Linked DNA regions of Homo sapiens: all the other regions are linked to region 2. The links come from fine-mapping of genetic effects on gene expression. A gene starts in region 2. Each other region holds a variant in brackets. All regions are shown on one strand. Distances are from middle to middle.

What was found. PIP is the estimated chance that this variant, and not a neighbour inherited with it, causes the effect.
Region 1: its variant is fine-mapped to the expression of IGSF10 in pituitary (GTEx, PIP above 0.99).
Region 3: its variant is fine-mapped to the expression of IGSF10 in skeletal muscle (GTEx, PIP above 0.99).

What each region holds. Positions count from the first base shown.
Region 1 is chr3:151,537,947-151,548,924 of GRCh38, reverse strand. It overlaps a transcript of IGSF10 not described here. Among named protein-coding and RNA genes, the nearest start is that of LINC02066, 8.7 kb to the left of the region's middle. The variant T/C (reference allele first, on the strand shown) is at 5,805.
Region 2 is chr3:151,456,370-151,467,347 of GRCh38, reverse strand. IGSF10 (immunoglobulin superfamily member 10) reads left to right here and starts at 6,287. Exons shown (of 8, transcript NM_178822.5): 1 at 6,287-6,402; 2 at 7,001-7,087; 3 at 8,638-8,832; 4 at 10,193-10,322. The coding sequence starts at 8,639.
Region 3 is chr3:151,627,020-151,637,436 of GRCh38, reverse strand. It overlaps LINC02066 (long intergenic non-protein coding RNA 2066), which reads right to left. Exons shown (of 5, transcript NR_183765.1): 2 at 966-1,053; 3 at 165-295. Among named protein-coding and RNA genes, the nearest start is that of MIR5186, 66 kb to the right of the region's middle. The variant C/T (reference allele first, on the strand shown) is at 7,234.

The sequences.
Region 1 (10,978 bases), 82 kb before region 2:
AAAGTGTTGAAAATTAAAACTATGACAAGAATTAGAAAAATAATGTTTGGAAATTTTTTCAGAAATTAAAATTTAAAAAGAGCTGGAAAATAAAAGAAAAAAAGAAGAAGAAATGAGAAAATTAGAAGATTATTAGTCCAAGAGGTCTGGCCTCTAAATAAGAGAAACTCTAAAAATAAAAATTAAATTAAAAAAAGGAAAAACTATCACTGCCAAAACAATTTGATAAAATTTCTAAGAACTGAAAGATATGAATATTTTCACATTGAAAGGGTTGACTTACAATGAGTGAAATAGCCATCATAAACTTTCAGGACACTGAAAAACAAAAATGAAATCCTAAGAGCTTTCAAAAATGTTTTTAAAAGTCACATACTGTTCCAGTCATTAGTGTCATGCAACAAATTCTCCCAACACTTAGTGGGTTAAAACAACAATTTTATTATGCTCTTGGGTTTTGTGGGTCAGTAATTTAGGCAGAGCGCAGTAGGAATGGCTTATCTCTTCTCCACAATGTCTGTGACTTCAGCTGGGAAGACAACTAGAGATGACGGACAGATGGCTTAAATCATCTGAAGTCTCATTCACTCATATATTTAGCATTTGATGCTGGCTGTCAGCTTGAACCTTAGCTGGGGCTGTTGACAGAGGAACCCCATGAGGCCTCTCTATTTGCCATGGGTTTCCTTAGAGCATAATGTTTAGGGTAGTCAGACTTCTTATATTGCCACTTAGGGTTCCGCAAACAAGTGTCCCCATGAACAAGGCAAAAGGCATACTGCTTCTTTTAAACTAGCCTCGAAATTACCCCAACATCACTTCCACTATAATGTGTTGGATATAAGCAAATTACTGGCCATGCAGATTCAAAGGGAAGGTACACACATCTCAATGGGAGAGTAGAAAGGTCACATTGTAGAAAAGCATGTGAGACAAAGATATTTTGCAACCATTTTTGGAAATACAATCTTCCACACCACAAACATATAAAACTAGAATGACTTCAGGTTGCTCAAACAGTAAAACTGGAAGTTGTATAGTGAGGGATTGATGCCATTAAAATATGAAGGAAAATACATTTAAACCTAGAATTCCATTTGCAAGCTAACTGTAAATAACATGCCGGCGGATTCTTTACATTTTCAGACATGCAATATCAGGAGCATTTGTCTCCCATGCACTCTTTCTCATAAAGTTACTGATGGATTTGCTCCAAGATGAAGACTTAAACCAAGAAAGAAGAATATCTGGGCTCTAGAAACCAGAGTACTCCATACAACCCAGAGGCAAAGAACATCTCTGAAAGAGGAAAACCAGAGTCCAATGACAAATATGCACCAGGTACAGTAAGCCTCCAGTCCAGGCTCTAGGAGAAGCTGTTTCACAAACATGATATTAATAGAATACATGATGTCTATACTGAGAGAAGACCTAGACAATTGGCAACAGTTTAGTTTTGAATAACGTGTGTGTGTGTGTGTGTGTGTGTGTGTGTATATATATATTTATATAATATATGGAAAACTAAGGAGAGGAGTCAAAAGTAAGATTAATTACTAACTTCAGGAAGAACATAATTGTGCAAGAACATAATCACTGGCTATGGCATTGCTCAGCTGTGAAAAGCATTTACATACTGATGAACATATTTAACAAAATGAATATTGTTCTAATGAAAACTATTAAAAAGGATGGAGTGGATCTTGGAAGCTTGCATGTGTGTGGGACGGTGTGGTTGTGAAAGGGAACTAAATCCTTATTTTTCATGGTAGAAAGTTAATAGAAAATGTCTAAAACTGAAAAATCCTGAAGAAGCAATATAAACATATTATTTAGAAATATGGAGAAAAGAGGCCGGGCACGGTGGTTCACGCCTGTAATCCCAGCACTTTGGGAGGCCAAGGGGGGGGTGGATCGCCGGAGGTCAGAAGTTCAAGACCAGCCTGGTCCACATGGTGAAACCCCATCTCTACTAATTATATAAAAATTAGCCGGGCGTGGTGGCAGTTGCCTGTAATACCAGCTACTCAGGAGGCTGAGGCAGGATAATTGCTTGAACCCGGGAGGCGGAGGTTGCAATGAGCCGAGATTGCACCATTGCGCTTCAGCCTGGGCAACAAGAGCAAAAACTTCGTCTCAAAAAAAAGAAATATGGAGAAAAGAATTAATTTAAAAAATGTAAAGAGGCTATACTTATAGAATGGGGAAGAGGGACACAGAGGACTTTGACTTTAATCATCAGGCTTGTACAAGCAATTTATGTGTATATAATGTTGCCAAAAATAAACATACGCCAGGCATGATGGCTTACTTTGGGAAGCCAAGGAGGGATTTGAGCTCAGGAGTTTGAGACCAGGCTGGGCGACATACTGAGGCTTTATCTCGACTAAATATTAAAAAAAAAAAAAAATTAGCCAGGCATGGTTGTGGACACCTGTACTCCCAGCTACCCAGGAGGCTGAGGTGGGAGGATCGCTTGAGCCCTGAGGGTCAAGGCTATGGTGAGCCATAATTACACCACTGCACTGAAGCCAAGGCAACAGAGCAAAACCCTGTCTCAAAAAGTAAATAAACATAAATAGTAAATAACAAGCATAGAAATTTATCAGTTGCTCTTGTTGGTGGGATGGTGGTGGTATCTTGGTGGTGTAGATAATGCTGTATTTTGGTAGGAGAGGGTTTTCATAATAGTCTCGCTGCATGCTAATATCACCCCCTGAGCCTTGCCAACAGAGATTTTTGCTTAATGGTCCAGAGTGAGACCTGGTCATAGATCTGTTTTTGATGCTCCCAGGTTGAGAACCACTGCACTAAAGCTGGGTTCAGCAATATCTTTCTGTACAGAGCTAGGTAACAATTATGCTAGGCTTTTTTTTTTTTTTGTGGCCACATATGATCTCTAATCTAATGTTTTGTTTTGATTTGTTTTGTTTTACAACCCTTTAAAAATGTAAAAACCAGGCTAAGCTCATCTGCTGCGAGCAACATTTGGATAGGGAGCAGTAATTTGTTAACCCCTGCACTACAGATTCCTAACCAGTTACCCTTCAGCACCCTTTTGCTTCTTCCTGATTCATGACAATTTCAATTAACAAATATTCACCACGTTTATTTTCTTTCCATCCAAAAATGTTATCAAATTGACAAATGATTTTTAAAGTACAAATTCAAGGACAAAGCTGAGAAAGGTGAGGAGATGACAGCAGATGAGGAATGCCAATAAATAATTGGAAAATATAAATAAATAACAAACAGATGGAAGGCCGGTTCTTGACAAAGCAAAGTGCAGGAATGCTAAAGTGCAGACACCTGCAGAGGGATTGCAGCTTGAATTGAGCCAATTTTCCCTATGGAAACTTAGAGAACTTCAGGACTTGATGGTCAAAAGTACCACAGAAATTGGGCTAAACCATAAGACCAAAAACAATGGAAGTGATAGAAAGCCTATTATTTAGCACTCAGAGCAAAGGCCTTGCTTCATCCTCCAAAGCTGCAAGGCAGAGGATTATAGAATTCTTCACTGTGAAACTGAGCAGCTCAAGAGAAAAATCTCTTAGTATCTCCTACATGAGAAGAGCACCTTGCTGCCTTATTACCCTACAGTGAATTCTGCCAAACTGCACTCAGTGATTCCATTTGCTTCTCAGGGCCTCCTTTTAACTACAAGTGGGGAGCCAAGCATTGCCAGGTGTTTGAGAAAAGTCTCTAATGTGAAAACAGGCCCACAATAATAGAAAATCAAGCCCAGAAAAAAAGAGAATATGCAAGAAGCATAAAAAAACTTTCAAAATTATGTAACTAATATGCTCAAAAAGATTAAAGGATATATTACAGTTGTGAAACAATAACAAAAGGCTATTAAGAAGGATCCAAGTAAGAATTTTAAAACACTTAAATGTAGAATAACTAAAATAGAAAATTCAACAGATATGAAAGATAAAGTTGTGAAAATGTCTCAGAAACCAAGAGACAGATGGAAAATTTAAAAATTAAGAAAGTTAGAGAATCAGTATAGAAGACCCAATAGCTAAACTAATAACAGTTCCAGAGTAGAAAACAGAGAAAACAAAGGAGAGAAGAATCATCATAGAAGTAAAATAAGACAATTTCCAAAACCAAAACACAAAAATCTTCAGATTGAAGGGCCTATCGCATGCATAATACAATAAATAAAACACAGCAAAGGACATCACAATGCATTTCAAACCCCAGGGCATTGAAAAAAAAAAAAAAGAGAGAAAATCTTAAATACTTTTAGAAAGAGAAAACAGGTCATTGAACAGAGGATTTGGAAATCAAATAGCATTAGACTTTCAGCAGCAAAACTAAAACAGGGTGGGTAGGTGGGTAGGGAATGAAATATAGAGCAGTGTCTTTAAAATTCTCAGTGAAAATGCTCTCCAATTTAGAATTTTTAAGCCATCAAACTGTCATTCAAACATGGAAGCTGGATATATATTTTCAAACATTCCATGCATTCTTTCTTGAAAAGCTTTAGAGGTTGCTATACCAAAAGAAAGATGTGAGGTAGAGAAAACAGGAAATCCTATGGAGGTGAGAGCAGAGAAAACCCCAGAAAGACTGCTGTGTTGCAGCAGCCTGGAGAGCCACCAGGAGCAATTAGAGCCAGTCAGAGGGCCCCTGCAGAATGTTCTCCTAGGCAAACCCAGTCCTGATGTGTTTGAGTACACTGGAAATATTAAAAGACATTTGACAGGCCAGGTGTGGTGGCTCATGCCTGTAATCCCAGCACTTTGGGAGGCTGAGGCAGGTGGATCACTTGAGGTCAGGAGTTCAAGACCAGCCTGGGCAATATGGGGAAACCCCTTCTCTACTAAAAATACAAAATTAGCCAGGCGTGGTGGCATGTGCCTGTAGTCCCAGCTACTTGGGAGGCTGAGGCAGGAGAATTGCTTGAACCTGGGAGGCAGAGGTTGCAGTGAGCCAAGATTGTGCCACTGCACTCCAGCCTGGGTGACAGAGTAAAACTCCGTCTCAATAAAAGAAAAGACATTTGACAGATCTGTTTGAGCACTTAGGGGTAGGGAGTTGGGGGAAATTATCAATAGCTACATAGAAAACTAAACAGATACTTATTGTAAGGTACATGGATATGCTTTGATCAAGGAATAGGCCAAGGCAGATATCCAGGCCTGCATGACTCAGCAAGTTTGGCAGGCAGACGCACACCTCCACTTGTTATATAACCTATTTGTGTAAGTTCATACTTGGCTCTGAGCCACTATTGTCTGTAAAAGGTGTAATTGCCCTGCTGACACTGTGCACAGGGGCTTGGCTCAGCTCGACTGGTCATGGCTTTTGTTCAGGCATTGGTACCCAGAGAAAGAGAGAGAGCAAGCAAAGCTGTTCATCTTGCAGGTGAACAGAGGGGAGGCAGGACACAGCTTGGCATGGCACGGCATGGCACAACACTGCTCGTGCTCTTGCCCAGAGAGAGAAAGAGTTAAGCTGCTGACCCTGAAGGCAAGGGAGAGCCAGCTGTGCAGCTGCAGGTGTGGGGGTAGTAGAAGCCACAGAGCTGGAGCAGACATCCAAGATAAAGGTGGACAGTGTAAGAGAGCTAATGTGGGTAAGCTGCTGATGAAAAAGCTGCTGAATAAAACTGCATTTCACCTGCCTATGGCCCCCTGAGTGATCTTTCTGCCCATCGACCCACTCCTCCCCTTGGACGGCAGCATAGGCTGGACCCAGACCCCTGAACCTAATACTTATTTACTGCAGGAAAACCCAAATGATAATCATGGACTTAGTCTCCTTGACTACGGAGAGAATTCTTACAAATA[T/C]TCATAATGTAAAATTTAGCCTTAATTAAACCAAAATTCTGATATAATTATATTGAAAAATTGACTAGGGGAATTAGTAGGAGAGATTTTATAAATGAGCTGAATCATTTTTGAACAAAAATATCAATAGACGATGTCTAGAATTGGTGAAGATAAAGCACATTTTTAAAGATGAGCACATTGTTTTGAAATACAGTGGCAATGTCAGAAAAAAAGCTAAAATTGTGTGGCCTCTAGACAGCAGGTGAGGAAAGTACAAAAATACCTTTAATAAAAACATGTGATTTTAACAAGACAAAAGTATATAAAACAAATTACAATCATCAACAGTAACTTTAAGCATTCCCTCCTTGAAAGGACGTAATCTAACAGGATTACAGTATAGTTAGTTTTAAGAACCCAAATCAGAAACTATAAGAAGTTTTCCTTATGTAAATTCTTACTATAAACATTTCTTACTATAAACATTTCTTACTAAAAACATTTATTTTGTTTTTATAGTAAGTATTCAAGTTATACTGTTAGTGGAAAAACAAGGAAAGAAATGTATCCACAGCAGAATATAAATTTTAAGAAAAATACACATGCATATATATTTATACAAAGGGTATCCCTGCAAGGATGTAGCTGATGTTGAGAAGAGTCGATGCCTGTGAGGAAGAGGACTAGAATACAGAGGTCAGAAATGAGAGGAAGACTTGCTTATCCCTATATACTTCTGTGTATTGTCTTACTTTAAAATATCCTTATGAATGAATTCTACTTATGTTAAAGTAAGGGAGATTTTCGTTATAGTGAGAAAATACAGTAAAAAATTACTATATGTGTCTTATATTATGTCCAATATTATATATAAAGAAAATGAGTATTTATATGCATTTATGGTTCTGACATAAGATATACAGGAAGAAAAGCATTTGCAGCCTGGATATATAAAATAATGGATTTATTTTGAAATGTTTTGAGTTTAGTGCCTGTGTGATAGCCAGAACCTGGAGTACCTGAAAGTCATTTGGGCTGGAGATAAAGCAAGTGCTGTAAAAGCCACTGAATAAATAAGATCACCTGGGAAATTTTTAAGCGTGAATGAGAGGAGAAGGGAGTTGGGTGTGAAAGCAACAGTAATTTAAGGAACAACTCAGGAAAAGAGATTAAAATGAAGCCAAAGAATGTGTTAAGAACATTGGTCATGCTACCTGCCGCATACACAATCCTTTCTAAGGAAAGTTGCTTTTCTTAAGGGAGAAAGTGGCCATGCTTAGCTTGCTTTGACCCCCATTTTCTCCACAGCTGATTGGTCTAGCTTGGGCCCCAGACATACATCTATCTATCCACTCATCCACACATATGTATGTATATGTATTTATGTATTGTACTTCTGTATGTCCTCGAGAGAAGGAGGAAAAGATGATGAATTTCATAAGACATGAGGAGGTATTAGTAAGATGAAATAATAAAAAATAGAGATACTACAAAGAAAAAACTAAAACATATGCAGAGAGAGAGAAGCCAATTTATCAAAAAGGACAATATAAAATTAGAAATATCAGCCTCCTAAAAGAATAGTGTCAACTTTAAAATACAACCATGAGCAAACCTCTAAAAGTACTTTGTTTACTCAGTAATGTGTTTAAATCTCATCTATATGACTATAAGAAAACTGAATTTATGGCCTAGCAAATTAAACAAAGAACTTTAGTGTGCTAGCTAATCTCACTGACATCAAATTCTAAAATATGATTTTTTTGACATGACTCAGCTCTGTATCATAACAAATTTTACTGTTTTGTTAGCCTCCCATATAATGTAAAGATATACTGTCTTGAAGTCATTCTACTTCAACAGACACATCTGACTTTCTGCCATGAAGTTTGTAAAATATGTTTTAGATAACTGTGGACAGTCAAAAACATGACTGATGTAGGAGAAACTGATAGTTTATGAATCTTACTGCTAATCACATCAGATGTAATGAACTTAATTAAACTACTGAGGTTTTGAGGGTATTTTAAGGTTTGTTTTTTTAACCTTAAACGGAATCATTTGTTCCATACACACTATACAAACTTCAGCATGATTTCCACTATCTGGAACTGAACTCCCTCTGATGTCTCCCCTCTGCAGTTGTTCCAATAATTTCTTCTGTAACCTTCACACTTAAAATGTAGATGGTTGTTCAGGGTTCAACAGTGAAAAACTGAGGAGATCCTCAGAGAGCAACAAAATTACTAGTGGATCTCCACTGTGGCTCTGAAAGTTCCTTTTGCCATGCAAGGTATCATATTCACAGATTGCAGGGATTGGTTCGTGTGCATTTTCGTGGGGGACTAGGCTTGTGAGGATGTAAAGCAACTGGAATTTTTGTACACTGCTGGTGGGTGTATAAACTAGTAAACACTTTGGAAAACTGCTAACATCCACAAAAGCCAAACAAATACATACCCTCTGACCCAGCAATACCACTGTAGGCATAGAGTCAACAGAAGTACATAGATATATGTGCACCAGAGGTACGAACAAGAATGTTCACATCACTACTATTTATAATAGCTCTAAACTGTCAACTTCTCACAGGCTATCAAAAGTAGAATGGATAACTACACTGTGGTTTAGTTACACACTGCAGTACAACACACTAATGAGAATAAATGATCTGCAAATATACACAATAATATGGATACTCCTCAAAAAAATAATGTTAAGCAAAAGAAGCTGGACACCAGAGTACATACTGTATTACTCCATTCATAAAAAGTACAATGCAGGCAAAATTAATGTATTATCTTAGAAATTCAGGTAAACTTACCCTTGGGTGAGGGTGACCAGAAGAGAATAATATAGATCAGAAGAAATGGTAATGTTCTGTTTTTCGATCTAGTGTTGGCTACACATGTTCAATTTTTGAAAATTAACTGAGCTGTACACTTATGATATATACGCTTTTCTGTGTTTATTTCATACTTCTATTAAAAAATTTAAATTATGTTATTTGGTTGTGATGGGTGAGATTTCTTTATGACAATTAATTGAGGGATAGGCTTCTGATTTGTTCATCGATTTAGAAAGTCTTCTTTCACTTCCCACCACAAAATGACACCACTGACGCCCAGCTAAGGGGATGAAAAACTTATTTAGGTTACTTAGGCTCGGACTAAGGCCAGTTCTGTCAGAAGCCTCTCACTACAAATTCCCTCCCTGCACCTCTTGTTTCTTAGATGAATGGATGGATGAACAGACAGACGAATGACAGACACACACAGAGATGATAGATAGACAGATAGATAGATGATAGATACAGATAGATGATAGATAGATAGATAGATAGATAGATAGATAGATAGATAGATAGATAGATGCTGTTGAAATAATGCTGGGTGAAAGGATTACAGCCTAAGAATAATCATCAAGGATCACTCTTCACTATCTATTGAGAGAACAACCAGCTGGGTGTTGGAGGTGGGGGTGGTCGGATTACAGATTCATATTGATACAATGAGTTTCAAGTGACTATGACACATTTTTTTCTGCATCTCCATTTCTTAACTGTAAAAAGAGGGAAAATATGTACTCTGCTTGCCATCCTGAGTTTGGGAAGAAGATGAATATGTAAACATATTTTAAGCCAAGATGTGTTAAAAGACCCTTAAGTAGAAACAATGCTCCACTCCTCTGGTTTTTCTAAGCACCAGTTTCTTGTTCCGCCCTTAACACTCAAACACTCAGGTGGAGTGAATTCGCCTATTTGATGAATTTAAAAGAAGGAAGAGGGCAGTCATAGCTAGCTCCTCTCTTCCCCTTCCTCTTAAGAGCGGCTATGCGAAAGTTCACGTCTGCATCTGGTCTTCTCTCGGGTTACAGAGCAAGCCTCCACGTGGGAAGCAGAGCGTTTGTCTGGACTGCTGTGACTTGTGACTCTTCTGTAGTCATGTGTAACATGTGGACTCCGCTGGAAAAAAGCAAGGATTAAAGTAAGTCCCTAATTCTAGGGATCTGTATTTGCAGGTCTAGCCTTACCAAAATCTAGGCCCCTTTCCAACAGCAATGAAGCTGATATTTTGATCGCCATCTGCCAGAAATTTTTGTTCCTCTTCCAGTGTTTTTAAAAACACAGGCAAGAAAAAAAGCTGGCTCTTTATCGTGCCTCTTCAAATGCCCACAGAAACTGAAGTATTATTGTTATTGGGATGTGTTTTCGTTTGCTGGAGTAACAGTTCTCACAATGCATGTTTTGTTCTAAAACCTTTTCTTTTTCCCTGAGCCCTTGCTGCCTGTGAAACAATTATAATGGTTTTAAGGGTCCAAGATTTAACTTACATTCTTTATGTGGGGCTTGTAAATTCAACTCAACATTGTTCTGTGACTACTACATGCCAGACACTGCGCTAGACTTGGGGGTTGAAAGAGTAATGTTCTTAAAGCAATATTGTGTCCTGGACATTTTAAATTAAATTTCTTTATGGAAATTCTGCTCGGGGTCTGATGTCAGCAGTGTTAATGGAAAAACAGCATCAAAGTCTTGGTGATTGTGTTTGTTTAAATATTGGAACTAGATACCCTTTTTCTCACTTTTATATTCCAATGAATAATCCGAAGACTTACATTTCTCATTCTACTTAGGCTGTGGTCTTACGTTTCTTCTACTATTACTTGGCTGTGAAGTGAGGTATTTAACCATTTAAACCATTATAATGTCCTTATTTAAGTGAGAGAGAATTAAAAACCAAATGAAACAAGCACAGACCCACAAAAAATCCAGGTCCTTCTCGTTATAAAAAGGGCAACAGCCTTTTTAAGCTTTTAGTTAATAATTAAAGAAATATATTAAGCAATAATGAGTGGGCAATAATGAACTTCTATGGGCTTTGTGTTTCTGGTGTTATGGTGGTCCCAGGAGTGACCCATCACAATTCTAAGAAACCTCTAAGAATATCAAATATGTTTATCAGTGAAGTCGCAGAATGAGACTTTGACTCTGCATCTGACAATTAGTAGGTCCTTCTGAAGACCCTTAACTAAACGTGAAGTTTGGCAACTATTAAGAATCCCACAATTTTGATCTCTGCCAAGTCGTAGACCCAGGAAAAGTGAGGAGTGAGTAATAGTCAGAGGAATCTGAAACTGAGGAAGCAGGAGGGCTCATGAGAGGGATCCTAGCTGCTCTGAGGATTTCAAAT
Region 2 (10,978 bases):
GTTTTAGACCATGGAGTGAAAGTAGTTATAGCAGACAGGCCTGGCTGATCAGGTCTTACTTTGTAAGGCATCTAACTTCCTCTTTTTCATCATCTTCAGGGTGAAAGGGTAATTTAGCAAAAAGGTTAGTGGACTCAGTATATAGGCAGAAATGGATAAAGAGAAGAAACAGTCGAAGTTAGTTCAGTCAGAGCACAGCCCTCTTTTGTCATGTCCTTGGTCTGGTGCCTAAGCTTTCCATTTGCTTTTTGCAAAGAATCTTTCAAGGAGTTAATTTTTGATTCATTTAGTCTTTTGGAGACCTCTGCATACCAATGAAAGACTATGTCCCACTGTTTCTGTGGGACATAGTCTTTTTCCAATATGCCTCACAAATACACAATTTTTTCCAAATTATAACTTCCTCATTTCGACCATCTTAAGTTCTCTTTAGTGGGGTTAACCCATTTTTCTAAAAATGCACACGTTGAGCCAGGCATAATGGCTCACTACTGTAATCCTAGCCCTTTAGGAGGCCGAGGCGGGTGGATCACCTGAGGTCAGGAGTTCAAGACTAGCCTGACCAACATGGTGAAACCCTGTCTCTACTAAAAATACAAAAATTAGCTGGGCATGGTGGCAGGTGCCTGTAGTCCCAGCTACTCGGGAGGCGAAGGCAGGAGAATCATTTGAACCCAGGAGGTGGAGGCTGCAATGAGCTGAGATTGTGCCATTGCACTCCAGCCTGGGAGACAGAGTGAGACTCTATCTCGAACAAACAAAACAAAACAAAACAAAACAAAAACACGTGCTGGGCCCATAATTTTTATACATAAAATTAGCTGGAGTTCCAGAAGGTGGAGTCCCAGACTCCTTGGACTGAGATAATTCCATTATTAAAAATAAAGTACCTACCCAAGGTCCAAGGCCTCTAATTGAATTCAATCCAGTTAATTATCAAATCCAATTTGATCTTAGACTCGGTGCAGTCTAAGTATTGCTCAAGTAAACTCAGAGACCCCAAAACACAAGTTACTGGAGTTCAGAATCTGAGAGAAAACTCACCCATGACCTCCATTTACAATCAAGAGAACAGTGAGCACAATGGGCTCAGCGGGTACCTCGCCTGGTCACCTGGTATTTCTGGGGGTCGCCAGAGTTTTACTTTGAATCCCACTTCTGATGCCAGATCTGTTAAAACTTCAGACAAATTAAATTTGACAAAGTTTAATTGAACAAGGAAAAAAACGATTCATGAATTGGACATCCTCCAGAAATACCGCAGATTCAGAGAGACTACAGGGATGCCTCGTGGTCAGAAAAAATTTATAGACAAAAAAAGGAAAATGATATACAGAAATCAGAAGTGAGGTACAGAAACAGCTGGATTGGTTACAGGTTGGCATTTGCCTTATTTGAACACAGTTTGACACTCAGCAGTGCATGAGTGGTTGAAGTATGACTGCTAGGATTGGCCAAGACTCAGCAATTGTTACAGGTGCATATTCCTAAGTTAGGTTTTCAATCTTGTCTACCGATTAAATTAGATTACAGTTCATCCACAAGGACTCAAATATAGAAGTACAACGTCCCTCTCAGGCCATATTTAGTTTGCTGTAACAGCACCATTGGTATCCTCTGGATAGTATGACAGATGTCATAAGAAATTAAATCCTCCAAAAGACAGATGATACTGAGCTTCCTGGAGAAATCAGAAAAATGTGCCTCATTTGCCATTTCCCATTTGAGAAAATACAAGCTGCCGTATTCACTAATATGTTATATAGTAAAGTAATAATAATGTCTTTTCATTAAAAAGAAGAAGAAACTAGAAGAGTTCTCAAATCTCTTAGGTGCATCTCCTACCCAGGCTTAAGAAATCATGGTGAGTTCTGCAAACCTCAACCAATGGCTTTTGATACAATACTTATCATAAAAGCAACACAGAGCATTTACAGCGACCAGAGTACAAAACTAAAGTCAGCAGAGCTGCTCTTCAGGCACCTATTTCTAAACTCTTGACAACAACAATGGTCATTCTTGTGCTCCTTCTGCCTTAGTCTTCTCTCAGGTTTGCATCTATATCAGGTTTCTAACTTTTATCTACTTCAGCCCTGGCTTTCCTAGGATCCTTGGATGTCACTAACAAAAATGTGAGATTCATCCATCCTCTCTTTTATTCCCTAAGTAAAATCTTAACTCTTGTTCCTCCAGATCTAAAATCTTTATTTATTCTCACAACCACCACTTTAATTCATTGTCTTAAGGCTGGACTATTATAATTGCCTCCTAGGTAGTTTTTCTATTTCCTATAATCCAGAGTCCATGGACTTATAAGAGGACCATGCATTTGCTTCAAATTTTTCTCCACATCTTCCAAAACTGTACCCATACATGGTGTTCTGAAAGCTCTGAAAGGTTAGAGATCTGGAATACTATATATAAAGTCTTCAAGTCATGTAGTTTGACTTTAGTTGGTTGAGTTGCAACTGTATTGGAAGAAAGATGATACTGATTTTCTTTCTACCTCCTTTTCCTGCATTATGTCTCTTCATGGCACTTATCACTTACCGTGCTAGTCTGTAACTTCAAAAAAGGAAGGGCTAAGATGTCAGTCTACTTCACTGCTATTGGAATCACTCAGTGGAGGTCTTGACTGTTTGGTTAATTGAATAATATGAAAATTGTGGAGCTGGGAGGTGGTAATGATTGTGCCTGATTAAAAGATATGTAACAATTTTGGCATTTGGTTATCTGTTGACACATATATAAGTCAGTTTTAAAATTCATAGCTTGTTCTGATTGTCAGGTGATCTATGACTTGTAACTGCTTGCGCTTGGTTGATTGGTGTTAAATAAATACTCTGATTAGGAGGGTGATGTAAAGGATGGTATGGATGATAAATTAAGGATGAGGAGTAAGAAGTAGTAATTACTAGAAAAGACAGCAAATAATGTCAAAGACCTAGAGATGAGGGGAAATGTAATTCTCAGGGGTGATATAAAAGGTGAAGAAGATGTATATTTATTGTCGTGTTTACTAGAAAAAATACAAAGCCTGAGAATTTACCAACAATACTGTTTAAGAAAAGAGTAACAAAAAGAGGGGGAGGATTTAAAGAAAATCATTAGGTAAAACTATAGTGAGAGGTAATTAAAATGTCAAACCATCCTTAAAGCGTAGGTAAATTACCGTAGTCCAGGAAACACAGGTTTAGGAGTTCAGATTGACAATTAACTCAGAGTCGCTATGCTCAGCTCTGAGATCTTGGCAAATTATACACTCAATTAACTTCTGCAAAATAAAGTTACAATTACAAAATAAAGTCATTATCATTGAATTTCATATATTTCTTATTAAATGAGGCCATGTTCAAAGGTGAAAGTGATTTGTAAACCATATGAATCTATAGAAACATATTGCATTATTAAGCATGGTTAGAAAAAAGAGTGGTGAAACTTTTCTTTGATATGCTGTGGACTCTCCAAATTTTATAAATAGAAGCAGGAAGAAGATAGAAAATATAAGGCTTTTTTTGTATTTTTGTAGAGACGGGGTTTCACCATGTTGACCAGGCTGGTCTCAAATTCCTGACCTCAGGTGATCCTCCCGCCTTGGCCTCCCAAAATGCTGGGATTACAGGTGTGAGCCACTGCGCCCAGCCATGGTGGCATGTGCCTGTAATCCCAGCTACTCAGGAGGCTGAGGCAGGAGAATTGCTTGAACCCAGAAAGTGGAGGTTGTGGTGAGCCGAGATTGCGCCATTGCACTCCAGCCTGGGCAACAAGAGCAAAACTCCGTCTCAGAAAAAAAAAAAAAAAAAAAAAAAAAAAAAAAAAAAAAACCAGAAAATGTAAGGCTTAAAAGCATTGGTTTTACAATTTTAAAATTAATTCAGTATTGTATTTTGGCTCTGAATCATTTAGCATTCTTTATCCTCAGCAATCTCATCTGAAAAACTGGTATAATTTTAGCACTTACTCATCAGAATATTTCTGAGAATTAAGCAATACATATAAAGGCTTTGACACATATATACTCTAACTATAAAAGTAATTACAAATATTAGAATTGTTATTAAGTGGAGCAAATGGAACTAGAATTGGTGCCAATATGACTCAGGTTTCTAATAATTCTGGAAGATGACATGAAAAGTAGAAAATACGTCAGAGAAGAGCTCTGACATAAAGCAATTGTAGAGATTTATCTCATAAAAATTCTTAAGAGAAGCAAACATTCCTATCAGGAGTTCACTTTGAAATTGATAGCAAGAAAATGACCCCAGGTAACAAGCCTAGGAAAATAAGTTTAACATGTTGCTGTCATCTTTCTGTGGTTCATCCTAGTTGAGGTCTGGAAGTCCAGACCTGGGTTAGAAATTGACTAAAGAATACGAAGCCATGAGGTTGGTCACCAAGGAGCTTTGGGAGAAAGATAAACTGTGGCTGCCAAAACCCGACAAATATGCCACATTTCCAAAGCAAGCATCCAAGTTTGGACATCACGTGAATTTTTAATTTAAAAGAATCTTGTCAGCTCTGCAGAGCTAAAGACCATGTTCATATACATGCTTCTAGGGTTACTTCTAACTCTGAGTCTCTGATTCTATAATTCTACTTTGGTAACTGACTTATTACTAACCATAAATCACATGAATGCTCGGCATGGGATATGGCACATTATCCATGTTTAGCTAAGTGAGGCAGCCACAACTTTATGGTTAAACGTTCAGACCATAGGGCAAGACTGCCTGAGTTTGAATTAACGGCTTTTCTACTCACAAGCCACATGGCCTGGAGTTCTGTCACTTTCCTTCATGTACCTTACTTGTAAAATGGGAATAACATAAATACTTTCCTTTTAGGCTTTTTGGTGCTATGGTGAGGCTGAAATGAGTTGGTATTTGTAAAACATTTTTCAGAAGTTATTTCACTAAACCAGCAATTCTCACATTGTAGCTGCATCAGAATCATATGGAAGGCTTGTTAACACATGGACTCCTAAGCCTCCTTCGTACAGTTTCTGAATCAGTGGGTCTGGGATGGATCCCGCAAATTTTTGATCTTAACGAAGTCCAAAGTAATGCTGATGCTGGACCCGTGACCCTATCTTGAGATCCACTGCCCTAAAACATTCATTGCAAATTGTCATCAAAAGCTTAAGTGCTATGTAACTACGTGGAAGGAAACAAGGTCATTTTAGTTATGTTAACTCAGTGTTTATGAGTATTGGGAGCCCCACCAAGAATTGCAGGAGATATTACATGTGGGCAAGTTGGTAGAGGTGATTCTGGAGGCATCTCTGCCTCCAGATGGTAGGGTTGGAGATGAGAAAGGAGAATGTAATCCAAGCAGAAATAGTAGTATTTAAATCCGGTTCTGTGATAATGATTTAAAAGAATTCCTCTGAGACATCTATATACGATGTAATATTGTTTGGCAGTTAAAAAACAAAAGGGAAATATTGCCATTTGTCACACATGGATGAACCTGGAGGACATTATGCCAAGTGAAATAAGCCAGAAACCAAAAGAAAAATAGTGTATGATCTCACTTATATATGTGAAATCTTTTTCTAAAAGGTCGATTATACAGAGATAGAGAATTAAATAGTGGTTATAGGGGTTGGAGAAAGGAAATGGAAAAATGTAGATCAGAGAATACACAGTAGCATACATTTATATAGATCTAATGTGCAAGAGGACTATAGTTAATAAAATTGTATGGTATTTGGGATTCTTGCTAAAAGAGTAGATTTTAGCTGCTCGTGTCACAAAAACAAAAATGGGGTAACTATGTGAGATGATGGATATGTTGTTTCACTATAGTAACCATTTTACTATCTGTATATAGCCCATAACATGTTGTATACCTTAAATATACGCAATATAATTTACTTATTTTTAAAAGAGGGGTTTAAATAAAACATTGACACTGCAGGTATCACAGGTCATTAACGCTAACTTAGCCTTCAAATAGAACTTTGGGAGCCACAGGACCAAGGACAGCCTGCGGCGATTTACGTAAACCCTTAAACCAAAAGGCCCACCTGTCAACAGGTGGAAGAGGTCAAGGAGGAAATGAACGGGCGGCCACTGAAACTGCTCTGCCACCCAGCCAGGACCTGCCAACTTGCTAGGAGAAAGCCCTGGGAATTTAAAGAGTGAAGCCACGGCGAATTAGCTTCCCACACGCTCGTAAACATAAAGAGGGGCCCGGTGGTCGTTTCTCATCCTTGTGCTGCTGAGCCCCGGCCGCGTCCCCAGACACAGAAGTCGGGCTCATCCCCCGCCCTCGCTCCGCCTTCCTTCCTTCCCTCCCAGAGCTCCGGACCAGCTCCGCACGACCCCAGCAGCTGAGCCCGGGACCGAGCCCGGGACCTAGCCCGGGCAGCTCGAGCCCATTGGTCACCAGGGCAAACAGGTGAGCGCCTCGGCCAATCCTTCCCCGGAAAGGGCTGGAACCCCACGCCGGCTGGGGCTTGGCGTGGGAATGGAGCGAGTACCGTGGCTGCAGAAGCGGGCGCTGGGGCGGGGAGGGCTGAGGGTGGGGGAGGGAAGACGCACCCGGAGAAGGTGGGGGCATGAAAGCACACGACAATTCTTCGGTGACTGGTGCCAGGCAAAAAAAAAAAACACACACTGAGGAAAGACAATCAATAGATGGAGACATCTGTGACAGATTTGTCCAAAAAAGACAATTTGAGGAGAAGCTCTTGGGACTTTGGAGCAAAATGGAGTGATTAGTAGTAGTTAATATTCAAGTGATAACTTTAAGGAGTATTAAGTACACTACTGAGGGAGGAGAAAGGAAATTTAAAAACCTCCACTTAGCCTTTTGTTTCTGCAACAGCAAGCATCATAATAAAAGAACGCTTCTGGGTTAATGTGGTTATGAGTTATAGAACTTTGAAGCTGTGGAAGCGGCTCCAGGTCTCCCTGAAGAGCATTACTCCTGGCTGTAAGCCAAAAAGAATAAGGCTTTTTGCTCACTTTGGAGCAGAGAACTTTTCCTCCCTCAGGTTTGGACACAATTTTCCATTTCCTGGGAAGATTTTCTGTCTCTGCCTATGTCACAAGAGGACTCAGGACCTGAAAGAAGAGCTCAGGTATTGCCAATTCCTATTTCATTATGTACATTTTCAGCCTTACGTTTGTGAGAATCCCTTATTCATGTGTTGTCTTATGCTATTGATCCTCTTTTAAATAATTTGAACGTGGGCATACCCAGAACTTTTATTTAAGCTGAACGAGAGAATTACCTTCATCCTGCTGTTCCTTCCTTTGTTTATCTAATGATAAGGTGGAAATGCTGTCTCCAATCATACAAAGCTTATTTAAAATTATTGTAACCAGGTGGTTACGATGGCAAAAGTGGTCATATGATTAATCCTATCTTAAATTTTAATTTGGACTAAATTATAATAATACATCCATCATCTTTTTATCTGTATGAAAATCCAAGCAGTTCAGCCCCAGTGTTATTTCTCAGTGTAGTTTGTAGCTAAAGGGTGGTTGCTGGTGGAATCCAACATCATGCTGTTCCACAGAACGGTGGGATTTATTACAAATTATGAAGGTCATTTTGCTTGGAAAAGCACAATAAAGAGTTTATTTCAATCCTGCATTTCAGGAGAGAATTAGGTTTGAATTCCTGGGCTTGCCCCACATATGGGTAACAGATACCATTTTTTTTTTTCTGACAAGCTGAGCATATTTCTTCCCTGGTTATGCTCCCCACCTCCTGTGGCAGCCATGAGCTGGAGGAGGGACCAAGGAAAAAGGCAGAGAGATGTCCGAAGCTGAGCAAAAGCAGACAGCATCATGCCTGCACAGGGTCAGCATGGCTCAAGCCCTCTCAGCTGGTCAGTCGCTGTTGCTTATGGTCATTACTTGGCAGTGAAGTGTTCAATGTGTCTTTTTTTTTGGCAGGGACTTGAAAACCGGTTAGAAAGAGATTTATTCTCCCTTCCAGTGGATTATTACAACCTTTAAAAAATGTTTCTGAAGAAGGTTTAATAAAATGAAAAAACATTATATATGAAATGATAAAATGTGTTACAAAATTGAGTTTGATCACATGTACACATATACACGTAAATGTATGTACACCTATACATATACACACAATAGATGAAAAAGGCTGGAAAGGAATACAACAACATGTTTAAGGATTATATAAGTGGTGAGATTGAGTAATTTTTTTCCTTTTTACTGCTTAATTACAGTTTCCAAATGTTTTATTATGCACAGATATTACTGTTATAATCAGTTTCTTGAAAGTTACTCTAAAAGAATTAATGTATATAAAGGAAACTAAATTCTATATATTTTAGTTGTCACAATCTTTCTTATGGTTTCCAGTTTCCCTTTTAATGAATGCCTGAGTAATAGGGATTGCTGGTTTTCATAAAGAAGTGAGAAGCTGTGAAGAAATTTTCACAACAGTAAATATCCCACTTGATCATAAAGCGCAGTGTGAGGCCAGCAGCACACACTATAGTTTTGTAAAGAGTGCATATGACCACAAAGGGTAGGAATGGAATTGACCACTTACGACCCTTAAAGAAGGTCTCCCAGATTCCCAGAGTGAGTGTGTGGTGGTCCTGGGACTTTGCTCCACCACTCTTTATAACTCTGAGGTATGATGTTTTTTCAGGATGAAGGTAAAAGGCAGAGGAATCACCTGCTTGCTGGTCTCCTTTGCTGTGATCTGCCTGGTCGCCACCCCTGGGGGCAAGGCCTGTCCTCGCCGCTGTGCCTGTTATATGCCTACGGAGGTACACTGCACATTTCGGTACCTGACTTCCATCCCAGACAGCATCCCGCCCAATGTGGAACGCATCAATTTAGGGTGTGTGAGACCTCATGTTTCCTCTTCTCAAAGAGGGATCAGTCGCAGCAGTGACTTGTCCCTCAAACATCTATGACTTTGGGAGATGAATCTCAATTGTTTTAACAATATTTCTTTTCTGAAATGAGCTCATGAGAATTTTGTTTGTTGGGGGCAATAAGAAAACTTTTCCTGGTAAACTTTTATTAGGAGAAAGTTCTTCTAGAATTTGAAGTCCCTCTTGGTAGGTTGGGAGACTCATGACGGTAAAAAGCTTCTTTCTGGCTACATTTTTGCTGGAAAATGATATAGTTTCTGTTAACTATTGGGGTTATGATCATTCATCATAAGAGATGACAGGGTAACTGGAAGTGTCTGCCTATATAATACACACACACACACACATACATACATATATATATATATGTATCCTTTTTATAGGCCCTTTGGTTTCTTTCCATACAAACTTATTTAAAATGGATGCCTAATTAAATTTTTAAAAATATGACTGTATTTTAAACGTTCATGAAAAAAAAGTCTGTGTGTGTCTGAATACACATGTTGGACTTAGCATCGTTTATTTGACATTAGTGAGCATGTACTATGCACTGGGGATACAATGGTAAGATATACTATTCACTTCTAGGATGTGTATTGATCGTTAAAAAGACCAGACAAATGTACGGTCAGTACAATTAATAAAAACTAATAGAGCATACAAAGTGTTTTAGAGACAGTCACTAATATTAAGAGCTAACATTAAGGTTGTGCTCAGTAGGTGCTGGCATTGGGTTAAGCACTGCATCCATTTAATCCTCATAACCCCTTTGGAGTGAGTTCTATTATTTACATTTTATAGATGAGGAAACTGAGGCACAGAAAGCCTGCTGATTTTACCCAGGGTTGTACCACTACTCTGTTGAGCCTGAGCTCGTAATCATACCCAAACGAGACGCCCAAGCCTGGCCTCCAGAGCCCAGGCTTCTTAACCACTGCTGACGAATTCCACCTGGGGGAGTGGTGAGGAGATAGTGTCATGAAAGAATGGGCTAGATATTAAGTGTTCACAAATAGAAAAAGGTGAGGTCAAGGGCATTCCAACCTGAGGGAACAGCATATATATAAAAGTTTGAAAATGATAAGAAATGTGACAAGTTCCCAGAATATGAGGGGGGTGATTGTAACTGAAATGGCAAGAACTGGGTAGAGAGCCGACCTTCTGTGGCATCTGGTGAATTTCAGTTTTTGAAGCATTTGATTGTCTCAATAGAGTACAGTTATAAAGAGAGGTATTGAGTTTTCTTGTGTTTATTTTGGTTATGACATTTGAACTTTAGTTGACAGACTTAGCTTATGCCTAGAATGTCATTTTTTATTTCAGATACAACAGCTTGGTTAGATTGATGGAAACAGATTTTTCTGGCCTGACCAAACTGGAGTTACTCATGCTTCACAGCAATGGCATTCACACAATCCCTGACAAGACCTTCTCAGATTTGCAGGCCTTGCAGGTGAGACTGATGGAGAGAGGGGGCAGGTTAAAGAGGTAAGGTGGGACCTGTGAGATAGACCTTCAAAGGCTGCCTATCTCTACACAATACGAAAATCAACATTCTGTAAATTAGAAGCAGACGTCAATGGAGAATGTTAACTGATTTTTAACTGTGGAACTGTGTGTATAAATTAGAATAATAAGAACTCTGAGGCAAGTTTTCTACTACCTCAAGCTAATAGAAAAAAAATCAATACCCAGAGACGATAAACCTTCAAAATTTAATCCTAAAAGGACACTTCTAGTCATGTTTATCTGGGAATTGAATGTGGTTCCTAAAAGTAATGACTATCTTAGACAGATAATAGTTTTATATAAATCAATGTACTATTTTCAGTTTCATTTTATTTACTTATTCATGTTCTACATTGTTCAATTTTTTAAAGTTAAGAGGACTCCCAAGAATGCATAAAATCATGCAAGAATGATCACAAAAGTAAGTGAGAAAGTAAAAGGTAAAATAAGCCTAGAGAAAAGAATAAAGGGAACATGAGGAAATGCATACATAGAGACCTTTAAGTCTGCTATAAGTAGGACTTGAAGCTTTCAAGACGCTAACAATACATGACATCTATTAAAACTTAAACTGTTCAGGAAAAGCACAGCCATGTATGA
Region 3 (10,417 bases), 170 kb before region 2:
CACATTGGGAGCTCAGAATAACTGCTGTTTTAGAATTTCTAGATTGAATTTTTACAATCACGATTTGAATTCTACTAAAAGGAATTTACTTGAGAACCCACAACAGGGTAATGAACATGGCACAAGTTGTCAACATGCTGGTTAGGGTAGAAAAAGTATGCTACCTCTTTGTCCAGGGTTGTTTACACATCTGCCCATTTTCAGCTTCAATTGGAAAGGATGTGGCCAAGAAACTGTTTTGAATCACTGAGTCTGGTCCAAGTTAAAAAGTCATCCAACTTCTTCAGAGTGGCACCTGTAGACACAGCCAAATCTGTGTGGCAGAACATCTGCAACACAACTCCAGGTGACACTCTGCCAGATCATTTAAAATTCTGCATGTCTATTACTATGAAAAAGTGACTCTCCATCATTCTCAAGTTTCAGCAATGCCTTTTTAATCAAATTAAGAGATAAAATGTCATTGCCTCTACCTAAGGTCATACATTTTTTGAATATTCCCATGCTCAAAGAATACACCTACATAAAAAGACTGGTAGGAAGTAAATCAGCAAGTTAAGTGTCTGTCTCTAGAAATAGGGATTATGAAAGTATTTTTTCTTCTTACACTTTTATATCTCATGGCTTGACCTCTGCCCTGAACTCTAAACTCCACCTGAACTGCTAACTCAACACTCATTTAAATGCTTGATATGCAACTGAAACTTAACATGTAAAGAAATAGCAGCTTAATTTCTACCATTCTCCCAATAAAATCCTTCCCCTTTTTTTCATCTCAGTTAAGAAAAAATTCATACAAGTTCTTGAACCAAATCTTGTAGTCAATCTTTATTCTTTTTCGTTCACAAATTATACAAATTATATCTAATTTGTCAGAAATTCTGTTTGACTAACTACATCCAGAAGGGACTATTTTTTACCAACATCACAAAACCACCCTGATCTAAACTACCACCATTTCTCACCTGAATTATTGTAGTTCTTTCCTTGCTGGTCTTCATGTTTCCACCATCTCCCTCTAGGTCTATTCTCCACAGAGTTGCCAGAGTGACCCTTTTAAAACATGAGGCAAATCATGTCATTTTATTGATCAAAATTTTACAATGGCTGTCAAGAACTGTGAAGAGTATGAGATTTATATTACCCTACTTCGAAGTTAATAAATTAGCCTATTAGTGTTTCAGGGATGCTAGCAAAGACAAAAAGACTCCTAGGTCCAACATGAAGGATTTTGTTACTCAGAGCCCAGCAGGCAGCATGAGCATCAGCTGCAAACATCAGTTCTCCATACTCTCCAGGTCCCTTGACAGCAAGGCAATGGGCCAAAATAAATATGTGCATATGCAGTGGGGTACATTATAAGAGAGGGACAATGAGTTCATGGAATGCATCATTTTATAGCAAGCACTAAGCAAGCCTGCTCTTTGTTCTGGAAGAAGGCATCCCTCAAGGTTGCTCATTACAAACACGACTCGGAGAAATGGTCTGGATAAAGAGTGCTCAGGGACTTGCATTCTTGGCATACTTAGCAATGAAGTATGAAGGTGCGTAAGACGTCCATGGAGGACAATCTACTCCAACAATGACTTCCCATGTTAATTAGAATAAAAGCAATGGTCTTTATAATGATCTACAAGGCCCCACACTATCTGCTTTCCTTCACTGCCTTTTCTTTCTATCACTCATCACTCTATTGATCACCACTCTGCTTTAGCCATACTGGCTGCCATGCTGTTCCTCACATATGTGAGTCATGATCCTGCCTCAGAACTCTTGGTGTTACATTCTTCTGCCTGGAATGCTCTTCCTCCAGTTATACTCATAGCATTATAGATTGAACACTTATGTCCCCCCAAAATTAATACATTTAAATCCTAACCCCCAGGGTGATGGATAGTATTAGAAGGTGGGTTTTTGGGGAGGTGATTAGGTTATGAGGGCAGACCCCTCATGACTGAAATTAGTGCCCTTATAAAAGAGATCCCACAAAACTAGCCCTCCCCTTCCACCATGTGAGGACACAGCCAGAGGTGCTCTCTGTGAGGAAACATGTCTTCACCAGACACCAAATCTGCTGGTGCCATAATCATGGGCTTCTCAGCCTCCAGAACTGTGAGAAATAAATCTTTCTGGTTTATAAGCCATTCCGTTTACAGTATTTTTGAAAAAGCAGCCTGAATGAAGACACATGATTTATTCCCTTATTTCCTTCAAGAACGTGTTCAAATGTCACCTTTTCTGTGAGGTCTCTTCTGGCCACTATATTTAAAACTCCTATCTCTAAACCTTCTGGCACTCCATATGCCCCATGCCCTGACTTATTTTTCTGTTTGTACTTATCACCATCTGACATACCATATGAACACCTATGTTATATATATATACACACACACACACACACACATATATACACACACAAACATATACACACACACAGAGGTATATGCATATATGTGTAAATATATATATGATATACTATATTAGATATGTGTATAATTTATTGTATGTCTCTCCTCCAAGAGGACAGGGACTTTATTGGTTTTGTTCACTACTGGATCATCAGTGTCTAAAACCAGTCCTACAGTACATAGCAGGTACTCAAAAAAATACTTGTTGAGGCTGGGTGTGGTGGCTCACACTTGTAAACCCAGCACTTTGGGAGGCCGAGGTGGCCAGATCACCTGAGGTCAGGAGTTTGAGACCAGGCTGGCCAACATGGTGAAACCCCGTCTTCACTAAAAGTACAAAAATTAGCCGGGTGTGGTGGCAGGTGCCTGTAATCCCAGCTACTCAGGATGCTGAGGCAGGAGAATTGCTTGAACCCGGGAGACGGAGGTTGCAGTGAGCCGAGATCTCACCATTGCACTCCAGCCTGGGGAACAAGAGCGAGACTTTGTCTGAAAAAAATATATATACATATATATATATATTTGTTCAATAAGTTGAATGAGTTAATGTTTTTGTATAGTTTTCAAGTTTCCTAAAACAAACATCATTTTTATAATCGGAAACAAATAGTATAAGGTTACTTTTAGTGGCATTACTTTTAATGGCAAAAACCACAATTACTTTTGCACCAACCTAATACTTTCTATATAGAAGAATTTGCCCAAATGCAACAAGTTGTTTATAGACCCAAACAACTCAGGCAGACCCCACCCACGTCCCTGGCTGAGGTATGAGTAGCTAGCAATAGCTAAACTTACTAAGCATTACTATGCTGGACACTTTATAAATTAGCTCATATAATTTTTGCAACTTTGTAAGACATAACCCCCATTTTATCTATAAAGAAACTGAGGTTCAGTTAAATAACTTTTTCAAGATCACAAAGTTTATAACTGGAATTGTGATTATGAATCCAGACAGCAGTACTGCCCTGAGATCTGGGTAAGGAGGGCCCCTGTTTGAGACTTCGTATTTTTGTATGACTTCCTCAGCATTTTCTAAGTACCCTCAGTTGCCTGAACTCAATCAGGTCTACCAATGCTGTCTGGGCATGATGTCCTGATCTTAAACCCCATTTCTTCTCTTCCAAATGCTCTGCAACCCTCTCCTCTGCACAAGATCCTGAAGAGCATCAGAACTCATGCTAATAGGCTCCAGGAGAATGGTTCAGATGCAGGTTCCAGGACAGTGGCCTGACAAGTGGATCACTCCTGCTGACTCTTGCAGTATTTCTTTCATGGGATTATGTGAGATGGGACCATCAGAATGGCTAACTTGGGTGGCTCTTACCCCAGTGAAAAGATAAGTTCTGGGCTCCAAGCTACTGAGGACCATTGCTGGTACTTGGGTTTGAGCCAGATGTGTGGTCCCATGCATCAGCTCTTGCCTATCTGTATCTCAACCCTGATGCCACATACTGTCTATAGCACCTAAGGATGGTGGGAACAGTGATCTCTCAGCTTATGTGTCCCTCACCCACTGGCACTCAAAGCAGTCATTCCACCTATCTTCAGGGTCCATACCCTGCATCCAGCAGTGCTCTGGAGAATCTGTTGCTCTGCAAAGCCAATGGACCTTTCTCATCATTGTCTTCTCTTGGCTGATTGGTACAATGATAGAGGTCTCTCCTGGGTCAGTTTTAATCCATGACAGATGAGAAATGGTCATTTCTTGTGCAAATGGGACTGCTCTTTTTGCTCTGCCCTTGGGCTCTCACATCTTCTCCCCAAGAGCGGCAGTGAATGGAAGGCACAGGTGGGAGCCACATAGAAAGGGATCACATTCTCAGAATCCATCATTACAATTTAACAAGTTAAAGAGAAAACATGGCTGGTTGTTGCATTGCTCTAGTTTATGCTCTAACATTCCAGTCTGTAAACTTAACATGAATAGCAAATGAATTATTGTTCTCCATTTTTTCTGAATACTCTGCATAAAACTTGCATTTGTAGTCATCACAAGTACATATGTGGCACTTAACTCGGCACAATAATAACCTTTGAGTGTCATTGGAAGCCAGTATTCATGGGGTCACAATGAATAATGCAGCATCACGAGTAATGGTGTAACCAGCAATTAAATAAATGATATTAGGAAACTGCAAAATCAAGATAATCTCTGTTGCTTCAACACAAACAGGTTCCAGTGAGCCATGGCATTGTCCGTAACATCATTGCTCTCTTTTCATTGTGATGAGAAAATAAACACGAAGAGATATTTTCCAGAACACAATTGGCAGAGATGGTGCCAGAACACAACAAAAAACTTTCTGAGGCCAACCTTCTATTTAATATCCAAATAAACTATCAGCACAATCTATCCAACTTTTATTTTTGTCATCAGTCACAGTTCTCTACTATATTTGTAAAAGGATGCTTTATCTTGGCATAGCTGCAGCCCATTTCTGTGTTAAGATTTTTACATTACATAGTATTATTGCTATTTTCTCACACTGTGTACCTTCCTGTGCAAATCTCCCTCCCAAACGCTGACAATCAGCAGCTTATCTTCTTGATACCTAGATTCCTACTGGCCAACACCTCTCAATTCCTCTCTCAGCTACTTTTGTTTTCCTTTGTCCTACACTGTTTACCAACCCTTTCTCTTCCTCATTTTCTCCTTCTGCAAATAAAAACCTAAAAAAGAAACAGAAATTCCTTACTTTCTATCCTCCCTAATCTAGTGTTTCTCAATGCATGATCTTCTGATGCTCTTAATTAAAATCACTAGAGGGCTTTTAAAAACACTATACAGGTTCCCAGGCCCCACCTAGATCAACTGAATCATGTCTTTGGGAATATGGCCCGGGTCACCCATGTTTAATCAATCAGGTTGATTCATTCACAGGCTAAAGCTTGAGATCACCAACTTAACCACAAGGAAAAAAGAAAAACAAAACAATAACAACAAAAAAATTGCACCACTGTTGTCAAGCTTCATGATTTATAGAGTCAAGTACAAAAGCATATTGTACAGACTGATGACACAATGTACAACTGTGCTAGATACAGTGTCGTACATATGCTGTGATGTTAGAATATGAGGTACAGGCTTGCACACATTGCCCTTCAACCTGGAACCTCTTTTGCTCACTTATCTCATTTCTATGTCTTTCAAAACCAGATTTCTCCATGAAGCCTTCCCTGGCTCCTCCTGCCTCTCCTTTCAAAAGCCAGGTTCACATGTTGTTCACACCTCTCTTTATATTAATGATCAGACTGTATTTCTCATTGTTTCTTCATGGGGCTGTCTCCTCCTTCAAAGTATGAAGTTCATCAGAGCTATCTGTTTATCTCCAACAATTTATGAATATATGTGTCCCTATGCTATATGGCAAGTGCACAATAAATAGTTGTTGAATTAATGAACTATAAAAAACTAGAAGAACAAGAACCCATCCAAGTGATTTTGCAAAGTTTAAAATGAGACACTATAAATTATCTAGGTGAGTGCTGCATTAGAAATGAAATATATTATTCAAGTTCTACTCTCAGATTTTATTGATTTCCTTATGGAAAACATGTGCTGTGTTCAAAGTCAAAGAAGCTTTAATGCAAGTCAGATCTTCCTTCGTAATCCTTTGGAAATAGCCTTTGACAATGAGGAGAGAGTGAAATGTGACTTGTCACATTATAAATAAGGCTAAAAATACACACTTGATGTCATCTAGTGTTTGGTGTTCCAAGAACCAAAACTAGTCATTGCAACATTTCAGCTTAACATCTGCTCTTTCAACCTGTTCAGCTGGTTGTTTGTAAAACATTCCAGCTTATCTCTTCAAAGTAATGTGAGTGGGAGTAGGAACCCTTTGTTGAGAACATTTTTTAAGTAAGATTCTAGAGGGCCAGTTATTTGTGGAAACCAGCTGATGGAAGGGGGCAGCTGGAGGAGCCAGAGATAGGTGAAGAGAATAATTTGATCCTCCTGTGACTTTTCCTAGTGCTGACTTCCATCTTCCCAGCTGAGAACTCCTGTGATAGCTTCCTGTCTATCCCCCCACCTCCACCACTGGCTCATTCCTCCCTGCAGTCTAGTCTCTCCCCAAGCCCCACCACAGCAGACAACTTCAGCTGAAGAACATTTTGGTTTGAACTGTCCTAAAAATGGAGACACCCCTTTCTTGGATTTCTTTAATTGATATATCATACTTGTATGTATTTGGAGTTACATGTTATATTTTGATACATGTATACAACATGCAATGATTAAATCATGGTAATTGGATATCTGTCATCTCAAACATTTATCTTTTATCTTTTCTTTGTGTTGGGAACATTACACTTCTTCTCTTTTAGCTATTTTGAAATATAAATAAGTTATTATTAACTATAATTTCCCTTCTGTACTATTAAATACTAGAACGTATTCCTTCTATCTAACTGAATTTTTGTACCCATTAACCCAATTCTAAACATTCTACAACTATAAATCACTGGCAAGGAAAAAATGATAAATCAAAACAAAACATCAGAACTTAAAAACAGCTGGATTTTCTTCCAGGTGGAGTTGATGCCCTCTGAATTTTCTTGTAAGTTGTATACTTTCTTCAGAGAAGATCAGAATATTATCCTCTAGGATTAGGGTAACCTTTTATAGGAAGAACTGACACTCTCCAAATTCTCCCTCAACCAGCTTCTTAGTGCCCCACATTCCACAATTAGATGCTCATTTGTTGGTTTAAAACTTCTGTAGCTTTGCTTGTTTACTTTTCACTCCCTCATCGTGTTTATACATCATGACCTTAACATGGATACCTCAGAGTGGAAATATTTGTCAGATCTATTT[C/T]TAAGACCAAAAGACATTGGGGAGGATGCTGTTGTGAGGGTGGGGGTTGGGGAGTAACTGGGAGTTCCAGGGCCCACTTGGGCTGCCAGGAGGGAGGGAATCACAGGACGTCTTCAGGCCTATCTCATTTTCTTCACAATTTCCCCTGCCCCGTCCTACTCAGAATGTGAAAAAGCACAGCTTTTTGCCATATGTTCTTTGATTCCCCTGGTTAGCAATAGTCCTGAAATATCAAAATGCTTTTGCTATTTAAGACCTTAATGCTCTTTAAAGACTTTTTTATTAACTGTAGCACGTAAGTCCAAGTTACGGCAAGAGACTTAAAGTTGTTCGAGGCATTGCCAGTAATTCAGGACAGGATCACAAAAGCAATAAAAATGGGAGAAAGAAAAAGATGATGATGCATTGCTGATGCAGTACCTGAGATTTTCATGTCACAGGCTGAACATAGGTACAAGTTTTCCCACAGAAATAAATTCTACCAACTGTTATGTATCCGCAGCAGAGAAGGAAGGTATGATTCAGAAATTAATTTCTATCAAATTGTTTATAGCTCTATTTTGATTATCCACACTTTCATATTTGTAATATTATGTTAACAGAAAAGTAATCGCGGTTTTTGCCATTACTTTCAATGGCAAAAACCGCGATTACTTTTGCACCAACCTAATAGCTGAAAAAGAGTTAGCAAATAAAAACCTGAAAATGTACTATGCAGCCCTTTCTAAAACCTTTCCACAGCTCATCCTTTCTTCCAGCCATTAGGTCCAGCACCAAATTCTTTCCTTCTGCCTCTCCATTACCAGGACTAGTTAGTGCTTTAATGTTCCTTATTATTCACGAATTATCTGACCAAAATAACCCAGTCATTGTTAAAATTAATTCCTCTGAAACGGTTTAAAAATACGGCACATAAAATTTAATTAGGCTAATAAATACTTGGAATATTGTTAAGATATTACAAATGAAGGATACAGGAACTTATGGTCTAGTGGGGAATTTACAGTCTAGATCAAAACTATAGCCGCCAAGGAAGAAGACAAAGCAAATGCAGCTTTGCCATTGAAGAGGCACAGAGCGCTGTTGGAGCACCAAGGAGAGAGATATTATTTCTGTCTGAAAGGAGAAGGGAAATGCTCATAAAGGAGGAAGATGGTAGCTAATTGAGATAACCACCGATTTGTGAACACCACTTCTTTGAATGATCATTATGAAAAATATCTATGAACTAGATTCTTCTCTACATAGAAGTTTGAACAAAGCATTAAATGTTGAAGGCAGGAAGTTACCTAAACTACTAAATAAAAATAATTTATTTTTGTTATACCCTGACGTCTGTTAATAACAGATAACACTTCCTTGAAAGTCAGAGTTTCAGTTAAATACTGGGTAGAGAGTGAATTAAAAAGCAATAAACAAGTAACCCTTGTATACTTACATAACATCGTCTTTAAAAAGAGTATCCAGTATCAAAGTCAAGTGCCAAGGCTAAGGGAGGCAGCCTGGTGCCCTGGAAAGGGCATACATAGGCTTTGCCTATGGAGAGACCTATGTTCAATTGCCGGCTCTACCATTTGTTAGCTCTGCATGCTTTGATTTGGGCACTTTATCTTTTTCTCAAAGTTTTCAATTCTTTTCCTATAAAAGAGAAATGTTTTTAGATCTTACTAATGCACACACCTAGAAACTTAAATTCAGTGTCTGAAAAAAAATCACGGTTTAGCCTAATAATTTTGTTAATTTATTTCATTTTCTTGAATTGTGGTGTCTGATGCCAACCTTTGGAAGGCTAAGGCGGGAGGACTGCTTGAGCCCAGGAGTTCAAGACCAGCCTGGGCAACATAGTGGGATCCTGTCTCTACAAAAAAAACAAAAAATTAGCGGGAGTGGTGGCATGTACCTGTAGTACCAGCTACTAGGGAGGCTGACGTGGGAGGATTGCTAGAGTTCAGCAGGTCGAGGCTGCAGTGAGCCGATTACAGCACTGTACTCCAGCCTGGGAGACACGAGATCTTGTCTCAAAATAAAATAAAATAAAATAATTTAAAAATTTAAACAAATCACTCTCTCCCTTTCTCTCTTCCTTGCTTCCTTATCTCCCCTCCCTACTCTCTCATTGTATTATATATGCTGCAATTCTATCCACAGGTAGACTAGCTTGTAATCCTACTTACTGAAAATTTTACTAATAAATTTCTCACATAATAATAAAAATAAGGATAATAAAGAACACCAAAGAATTAATACTATCCCCGGTAATGAAGAGACAGAAGGAAGCAATCCATGTCCCATCTGAGGGTTTGAGGAAAGAAGAGGAGGTATGGAAGCCTTCAGATGGGGCAGCAAGGTACATTTTTCACAGATCCTCTAAGGTTTTTAAGAGGACATATTTTCCCTAGAGATTCTCCAAGACACACCTGCCAAATACAAATTTCAAATTGCTCTCTATATGCTAGTGTTCCTGATTTGTATGGCTGATAATTGCCTTTTAAAGGGGCTTCATATTTAGGATCACACCTTACCTTCTCCACACCATGACGAACCTGGGGCAGTAAATATCACCACCCCATGTAGCATTTCATCAGCACACAATATCCATCCTACGCTGAGTTTTCCTTGGTGCCCAGCTAACTAGTGTTAGAGCCCAGCCTTAACTCAGATGTTGAGTAATTCCAATTGCTAGGCATTCTGACCTCAAGCTTGTGGGGTGCCCTTCCTGATCTTTCTTAATAATGACAATATCACCTACCTTGTCCCAGACAAAATGCCAAGTGCTTAGCATGCACTCTTGATTACCTGTAACCTCAATGCACATTAGGAAAGACTGTGCTTGCTTTACAGATGAAGAAATGATGAGGCTCAGATCGGTTAAGAAACTCACCTTAGATTGGGTGTGATGGCTTATGCCTGTAATCCCAGCATTTGGGGAAGCCAAGGCAGAAGGATAGCTTGAGGCCAGGAGTTTGAGGCCAGGAGTTTGAGACTAGCCCAGGCAACACAGTGAGACCCTCTACAAAAAATAAATTTAAAAAATTAGCCAGGCATGATGGTGTGCCTGTAAGTCCCATCTACTTGAGAGGCTGAGTAGGGAGGATTGCTTGAGCCCAAGAGTTTGAGGCTTCAGGGAGTCATGATCATACCACTGCACTCCAGTGAGAGAAATTTGCCTTAAATCACATCGTTA